Linked DNA regions of Homo sapiens: regions 1, 2 and 4 are each linked to region 3. Evidence: fine-mapped expression QTL. A gene starts in region 3. Each other region holds a variant in brackets. All regions are shown on one strand. Distances are between the middles of the regions. Region 1 overlaps TLE7 (TLE family member 7). Region 2 overlaps LINC02136 (long intergenic non-protein coding RNA 2136). Region 3 holds the start of ZNF23 (zinc finger protein 23). Region 4 overlaps TLE7 (TLE family member 7).

The links.
Region 1: its variant is fine-mapped to the expression of ZNF23 in whole blood (TOPMed, PIP 0.92).
Region 2: its variant is fine-mapped to the expression of ZNF23 in prostate (GTEx, PIP 0.97).
Region 4: its variant is fine-mapped to the expression of ZNF23 in whole blood (TOPMed, PIP above 0.99).

The regions. Positions count from the first base shown.
Region 1 is chr16:71,431,217-71,433,900 of GRCh38, forward strand. TLE7 (TLE family member 7) reads right to left here. Exons shown (of 10, transcript NM_001367365.2): 2 at 1,798-2,204; 3 at 1,654-1,676; 4 at 1,449-1,507; 5 at 894-1,109; 6 at 545-786; 7 at 205-346; 8 at 1-58. The coding sequence starts at 2,108. Among named protein-coding and RNA genes, the nearest start is that of TRM-CAT2-1, 6.1 kb to the left of the region's middle. The variant T/C (reference allele first, on the strand shown) is at 1,387.
Region 2 is chr16:71,421,062-71,423,745 of GRCh38, forward strand. The region is part of intron 1 of LINC02136 (long intergenic non-protein coding RNA 2136); the gene reads right to left. Among named protein-coding and RNA genes, the nearest start is that of LINC02136, 4.1 kb to the right of the region's middle. The variant G/A (reference allele first, on the strand shown) is at 1,599.
Region 3 is chr16:71,460,805-71,463,488 of GRCh38, forward strand. It overlaps ZNF23 (zinc finger protein 23), which reads right to left and starts at 1,443. Exons shown (of 5, transcript NM_001381984.1): 1 at 1,406-1,443. It overlaps LOC124903709 (a long non-coding RNA gene), which reads left to right and starts at 1,508. Exons shown (of 2, transcript XR_007065105.1): 1 at 1,508-2,488. RefSeq lists enhancers at 1,042-1,131, 1,402-1,561.
Region 4 is chr16:71,438,684-71,441,367 of GRCh38, forward strand. All of the region lies in intron 1 of TLE7 (TLE family member 7), which reads right to left. Among named protein-coding and RNA genes, the nearest start is that of TLE7, 2.0 kb to the right of the region's middle. The variant G/A (reference allele first, on the strand shown) is at 1,250.

The sequences.
Region 1 (2,684 bases), 30 kb before region 3:
TCGTTCTCAGGCCCGCCAATACCCATTCTTCACCGGGGTCGTGGGTAATGCTGAGGATCTGTTCGTGGAAGCAGGTTTGAGGTCAGCACTCAAAGTTGCCAACGCCATCCTTTGTGCCCACCTCTCAAGCTCACACTCCCACCCCTGCCTCCATGCATGGCTCCACTACAGGTGGCATTCTGCCAGTGGTGGCCAGCCGGGCACCTCATTCTGTAAGTTGTGTTGGTGCAGCCTCTGGTAGCTCCTCAGGTCCCAGGAATACAGGATGGTGTCTTCACCTCCTGTCCAGAATATATTGCCGGTGATGTCCACACATCGGGACCCGTATACAGGAACTTCGTGCTTCCTGGTGGGTGGGAAAACAACTCAGAGGGTCACTGAATGGTTTGGGCCCCCGGGAAGTTTCAGGGTCAGGAAGCCCCTAGGAGTACCCCAGATATATCTTCTACACTGACTCGCCCAGCCCTAATGCAAAGAGGGGAAAGAGCCTCACTGGCAAGCCCTCCCCCAGGTACACCTGAGTGGCTCTGGAGAGAGGTCATACCTGATCAAGATTTGGTTCTGCAAATCCCAAATCTCAACAAATCCATGGAAACAAGCCAAACAGATATGGGCATCAGAGGAGACAGCCAGAGAATAGCACGTGGGGCCCGTCGAGGTCAGCTGTGCCCTGACCTGGGGGGTGGGTGCCAAGTCCCAGAGAGTCACGGCCTGGGACGCACCCCCTGTGATCAGGCTCCGCTCATCAGGGAACAGCTTGCAGGTAACAACACGGTCCTGGGGATGCTGTAAGGAAGGGTTCACACACTGGTATCCCCTTGGGGCACCGAACCTGGGTCTCACGTCAGAGGCCCTGTCAGAGTTCCCTGAGTCCTGCTTTGGATCTCCCTCACCTGCAAGTCCAGCTGGGCCCGAGGGGCCTTCTCCCCCGCATGCAGCGCACTCTCATCCCATACCCTGATGTAGCCAGAGCCACACGTGTACACGTGGTGGGTTGAGCCGCTGATGGCCACAGCGTAGACTCTCTTTCCATGGAAGAGTGTGCCAACCTTCCAGGAGCCCTGTGGGGCCCTCTTCTGCCTGACCACAACTTCATCTGGAATGGGGGGCTAGGCAAGGAGAGGGTGGGTAGCAGTGGCCCTGACCTGCTATCATTAATAGGACAGTCCACCCCGTCTTCCAGCTAGATTCTTAACCACCCACCCATCCACCCACCCAACCGCAGAACCTGGCCCCTGGTTCCCAGGGTCACAGCTCTTGAAGAAATGACACTGTGAGCTGAAGACCCTACTTCTCAGGATGGGGGAACAGGGAACATAGCTCAAAAGGAGCAGGAGCCCAGGACACCCCCCTACCTATGGGAGAGAGAGTGAAAGTGTGGACACA[T/C]GGTTTCTTGATTGGGGGTAGGTGGGAAAGGAAGGATCCTGAGTATGAAGTTGGACACTTACAATTGCTCTGAGCAATGAGAGGACTTCTTCACTGGGAGAGGAAGAAGAGTAAGGCTGGCCTGCAGGGAAAGAGCAATGCCCACCTGCTCACAGAGTCCCACGCTTCAGGGAGAAGCCTGCTCTGTTGACACCAGGCCCCCGTTCCTAGTCCCCCATCTGGGGCCCAGCTTGGGCAACCACACGCACCACTATGACTGGTACTCACCAACCTCAGAACCCAGTAGGAAGCTACAACACATGGAGAGAGGGAGGGAGGAGACAGAGTGTGAGCCACAGAGCTTCCTGCTGGGATGCCCTCTCCCCAGTCCAGTTTGCCACCCCCACTGAGTCAGGTTCAAGCAAGACCTGCCTTGGGCTGGACTCTGCTGCTTCTCCTGGTTGTGCATCAGGGAGCCCAGCGGCCTGGAGCTCAGATCTACCCAGGCCCTGGAGGTGCCACTGCTGCTGGGTCACCGTGCTTGTCTCTTGATCAGCAGGGCTGTGCTGTATTGGGGGGCCCGGGGGCTGCCAGGGCACTCCCAACAGACTGCCCAGTTGCTGCTGCACTTGTGGCTCAGGCTGAGAGGAAACGCCAGAGCTTTCCAGCACATCCCTCCTCTCCTCTGGCTCACCATAAGCCCCGAACATTCTGAGCGATGCCTCTTCCTTCTCTCCACTCATGTTCTTAGATCAGTGAGGTGTCTGGACCACCCGGTTCTAGGACTTGACAAATAGACCCGCCAAACAGACACCAGGTTCCCAGTGTGTCCTGATCCCCTGTAAGGTGAAAAAAAAGAGACGCAGCTATGCACATGTGCTCTGTAGGGTCTCTTTAGAAGGGGCAGAGAATGTCTCCTTTGGTGAAAAGATTCAAAAGAGTGGTTGCCAACTAGCTTTTCACATTAGGTGTTGGCGGCAATGATGTCAAGGGTGAAAGCGTCACACAAGCACTTTGAGATGTTAGTGCCAGGCATTGTATTTTTCCTTTTATGCAAATGGACTGTATTTCTGGTCATTTAAAAATCAAACTCACCTGCCGGGCACGGTGGCTCACACCTGTAATCCCAGCTCTTTGGGAGGCTGAGGCAGGCAGATCACAAGGCCAGGAGTTTGAGACCAGCCTGGCCAACATTGTGAAACCCAATCTCTACTGAAAATACAAAAATTAGCCGGGCATGATGGCACGTGCCTGTAATCCCAGCTACTTGGGAGGCTGAGGCAGGAGAATCACTTGAACAGAGGAGGCGGAGGTTGCAC
Region 2 (2,684 bases), 40 kb before region 3:
CATGAAACAAAGCTTGTTGGTATTTTTATAGGAATGGCATTCAATTTATAAATCAACTTGGAAGGAATGGGCATCTTGATGATGAGTTGTGATAGCCAAAAACAAGGTAGTCTTCCCACTCCACGTGCTTTTGTGTTTTCCAGAAGTGTTGTAAAATTTTCCTTTTATAGACTTTGCACATTTCTTATTAAGTTTATCTCTAAGTATTTAATCTTCTTTGTTGCTATTATACATGGGGTTTTCTTAAGTCCTCTAACCTAAGTATTGTTTGTGTATATCAAGGCCACTGATTTCTGTAAGCCGATTTTCCAGAAAAAGGCTAAAACTACAAAGGAGATGGTGCTGAGGCTTGAGCGCTGAGCCCAGCTACAGATCTAAGACGATGCGGGCTATGAGGACATGCAAGCATTTTGAACTGGGAGGAGATAAGAAGAGAAAGGGCCAAGTGATTCAGTTCTAAATTTCATCTTTTGTTTTATTATGAAGACAATAAAATCTTGAGGTTATGTTCACTTCAAAGAAAAGAAATGTATGATAAATTTTATACTGTAAATAAATCCTTTTTTGTGGGTGAGTGGCAGGCATTCCTCAGTTATCCCGGTGGGAACCGGGGGAATATAACAGACAGGCCTGAAATTTGGCAGCTCTGGAAGCCACTCCTACTTCCTAGCAGAGGGTCTTGAGAATAACTGGACCCATTCCACACCAGGTGGTGAGGAGAGAGGGCTCAGCCAGGCCAGGAGGGATCCTCCATCTCTAAGTGGCCGCAAGTCAGTGATCAGTGACAATCAGTGATCAGCCAGCCACTGCCTTCCCGTGCTAGGCACATTCTGTCCACTCTATAATATAACCTCCCTTCAGCAGCCCAGTGAAGTAGATTCAGGTATGATCACCATCTTATGGGAACAGAGAGGTTAAGATACTTGTCAAAGGTCTCACAGCCAAGCATGGCAGACCTGGGGATAAATAGATCACTCCAGCAACCGCGCACAGTGGTTTCCAGGACTGACCCCATCATTCACAGAGGAGAAACAAGCCCAGAGGGGGAAGAGACATTCTCAAGGTCACGCAGCCAGTCCAGGTCTCCTGCACAGGGCCCTTTGCATCCATGGCCACGTACTGGGGTGTAAGATGCAATGCAAGGCTTCCCCCTGGAGGAAGGGCCAGAAATTGCAGACAACCCTACCAGAGGCCCTGGGCAGCTTCACTCTGCATGATGGTGGATTTAGTGACCTGCCCCAGGAGGTTCTCCTTTCTTCTTCTTTTTTATTTTATTTTATTATTTTATTTTATCGCCCAGGCTAGAGTGCAGTGGCACCATCTCAGCTCACTGCAACCTCCACCTCCTGGGTTTAAGTGATTCTCCCTCCTTGGCCTCCTGAGTAGCTGGGATTACAGGCATGCATCACCACACCCCAGCTAATTTCTTTGTATTTTTAGTAGAGACAAGTTTCACCATGTGGGCCAGACTGGTCTCGAACTCCTGACCTCAGGTGATCCTCCCACCTCGGCCTCCCAAAGTGCTGGGATTACAGGTGTGAACCACTGCGCCCAGCCTTTATTTTTTGAAACAGGGTCTCTGTCACTCAAGCAGGAGT[G/A]CAGTGGCATGATCTTAGCTCACTGCTGCCTCAAACTCCTGGGCACAAGTGATCCTCCTGCCTCAGCCTCCCAAGTAGCTGGGACTACACGTGCATGACACCACATCCAGCTAACTTTTTTTTTCGTAGAGATAGGCGTTTCACTTGGTCGCCCAGGCTGGTCTCAAACTCCTGGGCTCAAGCAATCCTCCTGCTTTGGCCTCCCAAAGTACTGGGACTACAGGTGTGAGCCACTGTGTTGGGCTCCTCTCTTATTAGTGCCCCACTGTGGAATCTTCTGGACCCTGTTGGTGAAGTCATATCAGGGGCCCCGTATACACAAGGGAATTTTTCCTCTCACTGCATGATGAAATCATTGACTCTCTCAAGATTCAAGTTCCAGGAAGCCCCTAACAAAAAAGAAGAAAGAAAGAAAGGGCCAAGTGCCATGGCTCATGCCTGTAATCTCAGCACTTTGAGACCCCCTGTTGCTACAAAAAAAAATGTTTTTAATTAGCCAGATGTGGTGGTGTGCACCCGTAGTTCCAACTACTCCGGAGACTGAGGCAGGAGGATTGCTTGAGGCCAGGAGTTCAAGGCTGAGGATTGCCCAGGAGTTCAAGGCTGCCATGAGCAGTGATCACTCTGCTGCACTCCAGCCTGGGTGAGAGAGCTTGAGAGCCTGTCTCTCAAACCAAAAAAAAAAAAAAAAAACAAAAAAAAACCACACCTAGAGAGAGATGGCTTTCCATGTCAGAGACACTGGGATGGATACAGTAGAGACAAAACCTGAGTGGATGGCGCTGTCTGTCCTCACAAAAGTGATGACTTCTTGGATGTCTCAGATGCACAGTCTGGTGAGCAGAGAGCTGGGGTAGGCCAGGGAAAGGACCAAATGCCAGCCAAAGACGGGCGCAGTGGCCACCTCTAATCCCAGCACTTTGGGAGGCTGAGGCGGGCAAATCGCTTGAGGTCAGGACTTCGAGACCAGCGTGGCCAATGTGGTGAAACCCCATCTCTACTAAAAATACAAAAATTAGCCAGGAGTGGTGGCACATGCCTGTAATCCCAGCTCCTCAGGAGGCTGAGGCACAAGAACCACTTGAA
Region 3 (2,684 bases):
AAAACTTACACACTAGAGAAACTCTCATATGTAGGAAGTACGTACAAAAATATTATCAGCACATTTTAATAACAAAACACTGAAAACAACCCACATGTCCATTGAAAATACATCGATAAATTTTCATACAGTTTTTACAATGGAACATTACCCAGAAGCTACACACAGAATGAATTTGGAAACTTAACATTGAATTATGCGAGTCCCAGATGACTTATACACACAATGGTGCCATTTATATGAAGCTCAAAAAAAAAATTTAAGTACATTGCTTACAGATACATGCATATGTAATTATTTTTTAAAATAACAGGGCTACAATTAACACAAAAGTCAATATAACTGTTACCTCTAGGGGTTGGAGGCTGGGAGTTGGGTTGAGGAGGAGGAACACATTGATAAATTCAGCAGTACTGGCAATCTTCTCTTTCTTAATTGGGTGGTGTGTTCATGGATGTTTACTACTATATATGTAACATATAAATATATATTTTAAATAAATATATAAACCAGCAAGGATGGGGTGAAATTGAGGACCCAAAATGTAATACAAAGAACAGCCAATGTGCTTAACTATACTACAGTGAACATAACCACACTTAAGTGGTAGGAAAGAAAAGGGGTAAGCAACTTTGGAAAACAGTATTTTGACTAAATACCATAAGAGTAAAGACAAAAAGACCTGTATCCAAGTACTGTACTTTAGGTAGTAAATTTGCTTTTCATGGGGGTATGAATTAGCGATTCTGAGACTACTAAATATATTCTAAAACTGAGTGAATTCGTAATTACGTTGTAGAAGTCATTCCCAGGTCACTGTCAACCCTGAGCCGAGAGAAGCAGGGCTGAGTTACCTTTTGGGACTGACACTGCTCCAGGAGACAATGTCCTCCAAAAGCCGGGCTGCTTCTGCTGCCGGGTGACTGGGAGGGGCTCTGCGCTCCCACTCGGCCCTAATTCATGACCCTATGTCAGGAGCCTGGGAGCACACGGTCCATACTCGGGATGCACATAGGTTAATGTTCCTGCCAGACCTCAGCATGTCAAAAGACTTGTGGTATCACCTCGGGCCGCTTCACGCCCGCAAATATTCCATCTTTTAGCTGCACCGACACATCTTCCCCCGTCGACCAAGTGCTAAATGCTCAGGGCCTCGTGGCTGGGACAGCAACGTGCGTTTCCCCTTCCAATGGGCGCAAGCTATTGAGCCACAAAGACCAAAGCTGGAGTCGAGGAGCGCGGAAGAGCACCCCGGGCCGCCGCCCTGCTCCCTCTCCCAGCCTGGGCCTCCTGGCAGCGTAGGCCACGGGAGACCCTGCAGCACCCAGGGTGGGAGTGCGTCTCAACCGGACCCAGAGCCTGGGGGACAGGGCACGGCACACAGCGCCCGGAGCCCTGCACTCACCTCCGTAGCGGACTGCTCCCCGGCGCTGCCGGAAGTGCGTCACCAGGCGGCCGGGCCTCTCTAGGAGCAAGGTCGCTGCGCCTCGGTGGTGGTCACGCCCGGCCAGCTGTGGCCGCATCCCTGTCGGCTAGCTCGGGTCTGGCCCACGGTGACTGTTACCCCTGGGGAATGGGGCAGGTAAGAATCAGAGCCAAGCGGGGACCCAGCCCGGGGAGGTGAAGCTGCAGGTGCAGCCACGTGTGGGAGTCTTGGAAATGGACCAGTGGATGGCGCGCTGTCACACCCAATGCCCCCTTTTTCTAACAAATAGTTTGTAATGTCCATCTTATTCTCCTGACCTGATATTCATATATAATGGCCTAGAAAATCATACATAACATACACACCTACATATTAAAAACTAATGTTATGCCTTAAGTGTAATGAAAGAGAAAAAAAAGAGGACCGTCATCTGTCGTTTAAAAACACATACTTCAATGTGTTTGGTCTTGGCTGCTGCAGGAGACCTAATAAGGTGGTCGCCTTTACACATAGACGTTGTCTGAGTGCCACAGCCACAAAGCTGTGACTTACATTGTTGCAAAAGTCACAAAATTATGATCCAAAATGGCAAACATGTTTTCGTGAAGTTCTGAATGAAACACAGGACAATCGTCTCTTGATTATACAATAATTACATTCCTGGAAGATCAGTGTATGTTAAAACTGTGCAAAAATACATGTTTATCCAGAAAACAGGTTTAGATTCAGATAATTTAGAAATAGAATTTTCACCTACCTGAATGTTCAGCAAGACATTTGAAAGTGTGAACATTTTTTCAGTGGGCAGGACTGTCCTGTACATTGCAGGATCCTGGCTCCTATCCACAACGCTAGTAGCAATGTTACCACTGACACCAAATATAACAAAATACCTACCATAAAATTCCAAAATGAGCCCTGGGGGAAGGGAGACAGTACTAAATGCCACTGGATTGGACGACCCTTAAAATCCCCACCCCCTCACACACCCCCTAACCCTGGTAATGTGGGCTTTTCTTCCTTCCAGCTCTGATCCATCCAACGCTGCTGCACTGGAGACTGGTATTTGGCTCCCACTTGCCTCTGTGGCTTCTTATCACTCCCATTCATTCCCTGACTCTACCTCAGCCCTACATGCTAAAAATGCTGTTCTCTAAATCTAGAATGCCCTTCCCTTCCCATTCCTACCCTCCATCTTGACTGTTACTGGAAGTGTGAGCTCAAATCCCATTTTGCATGGGAAGCAAGCCTTCCCTCA
Region 4 (2,684 bases), 22 kb before region 3:
AAAAAAAAAAAAAAAAAGCGAAAATAGGGACAGCCCGAGGAGTTGCAAGAGTCAAAGAGAGCCGTGGTTCTTATACCCAGAGGCAAGTTAAAGGCAATTGGTGCTTTAGAAATAACCAGATGGACAGAGAGTGCATCCTGTTGTCCCTCAGCCGTGGATAGAGGGACCCAGCTTGAGCTCAGGATGTGCCATAGTTGAAATTCAGGTGTATGTGGGCAACAGGTGGGACCCCCTTGACCAAAACTGTCACAACCAGGGTAAAGTTGATTCCACGCAGAGAAAGCAAACAGGGCTAATGATAGTAATCAAACACACCTGTGCCCCTTCCCCACCACCTTTCCATCCCCGTGGCCAGTTGGCACAGTCTTACTGACCCCCGCTGTGCTGGGCACTGAGGAGATGAGGCTGGGCCCACAGAGCTGACCATGACCCGTGTGGAATTCCCTCTTTGAAGGGAAACTGACCACTGAACTGGAGATTACAAGTCAGAGTGGAAAGTGACATGGTGGAGGAGGAGGGCTGTAAAGGGGTGGGGTGTGTGAGCCCAGAGAAAGTCACATAACCTGGAAGTGAAAGGTGATAGGGAGTACGTAAGGTCAGAAGGATGGAAGGACTCAGCGGGGGAAGCAGGGTAGCAGAGAGCATAGGAGAATGTTCCAGACAGACAGAAGGGCAGAGGCAAAGGAATGGATTTTAGCAATTGGGAGAATTTTCTAGGGGCTGGAGCACAGAGGGTGTGTGTTTTGGAGGCAGGGAGGGCAGGAATGTGTCCTCCTTTCCAGAGAGAGTTGGAAGGCATTTGGGGGTGGTTCTGAGCTGGGGGAGACATAATCAGAGTTGGGTTTCAGAAGGAGGACTGTAGCTGTTCTTCTAGGGATAGAATGGGGGGAAGGGACAAGACTGGAGGCTGGGAACCAGCTAAAAGAAAAAGACACTCCACATCACCAGTCATCCGGGAAATGGAAATCAAAGCCACATGTAATAGATCACTTCACACACCCTAGGATGGCTATGACAGCCACCAAAACCACAGAAAATAACAAATGTTGGTGAGAATGTGGGGAAATTGGAACCCTCCTACGTTGCTGATAGGAATACCACGGAGCAGCCACTGTGAAAAACAGTTTGGCAACTCCTCAGAGTTAACATGTGACCCAGCAGCTCCACTCTTAAGTATATGCCCCCAAAAATGGAAAACAGGGACTTAAACATTTCTTGGACACCAGTGTTCACAGAAGCATTATTCACA[G/A]TAGCCAAAAAGAAACAACCCAAGTGTCCCCCAATTGAAGAATGGATCAAAATGTGGTGTAAATATACAACGGAGCATTACTCAGCCATAAAAAGAATGAAGCTGTGATACACACTACCACATGGGTGAACCTGAAAATATTATGCTATGTGAAATAAGCCAGACACAAAAGGCCAATACTGCATGATTCTATCTACATGAAATATCCACAAAAGGCCAGTCCTTAGAGACAGAAAGCAGGTTAGTGGTTGCCAGGGACTGGCAAAGGGGAATGGGACGCCACTTCTTAATGGGTCTGGAATTCCTTTTGGGATGACAAAAAAGTTCTGAAACTAGAGGGTGGTGATGGTTGTGCAACATTGTGATGTACCTAATGCCACGGAATTGTACACTTTAAAATAGCTAAGATGAGCCGGGCACCTGTAATCCCAGCTACTCGGGAGGCTGAGGCAGGAGAATCACTTGAACCCAGGAGGCAGAGGTTGCAGTGAACCGAAATCGGGCGACTGCACTCCAGCCTGGGCAACAGAGCGAGACTGCGCCTCAAAAGAAAAAAAAAATAGCTAAAGTGTTAAATTTCATGTTATGTGTATTTTACAAGAAAGACCCAAAACCAGACATGGGGTCATGAGTTAGGGGTCCTGCAAATCCCAACAGCATTTTTCCTTCTTCCCCTTTAGCCAGCAAACTCCAGGCACTTTAGCTGGTGGTTTTCTTCCCTTTGCTCCCCTAGAAGAGCCACACAGCTGCAGGTGTCCCAGCCCGGAGGCTATGGGTAGCTGTCGTCAAATGGCTGGTGGGACCCCAACACCTAGTGGGCCAACACAAAGGTCAGAGATGGGGTCATCTGGGCAGAACTGCGACTGTGAGCCTCCAGATCTTTATTTGAGGGCTGACGCGCCCTCTGGCGGGCACCTGGAAGGGACAATGCACGGCCAGGCCCCTCCTCCCACCTCCTCCCTCACTGTCACGGGGAGCCCCAACTCCCCATTCCTTGCCAAGGCCCCTTCCTCCTAGCATGGTGACGCTGCCCTTCCCACAAGCACGGTGGCGTCTCCCGCATCGTACATTGCTCTTCCCACCCACCTCGCGTCCCGTCCCTGCCATGGGAAGTTTGCATTCCCAAGTCCTGCATTCCGATTTCTGTCCTGGGTCCATCTCTTATCTCCCCAGGGACCTGTTACCAAAGCCCCCTGCTCAGTCACTCTCAGGAGCCCGCCGGCAACTTTCCGCCTCCCCCACAGTCCTCGACAGCAACTCTACAATGTGGGCCTCGCAGCAGGATTTCACTCGATTTATTTTGTAAGAAAAGTTCACTTTTTTTTGTTGTTGGTAGAGACAAGGGTCTCACTTTGTTGCCCAGGCTGGTCTTGAACTGCTGGCCCCAAGCAATCCTCCCGCCTCGGCCTCCCACAGTGCTGGGATCACAGGCGTG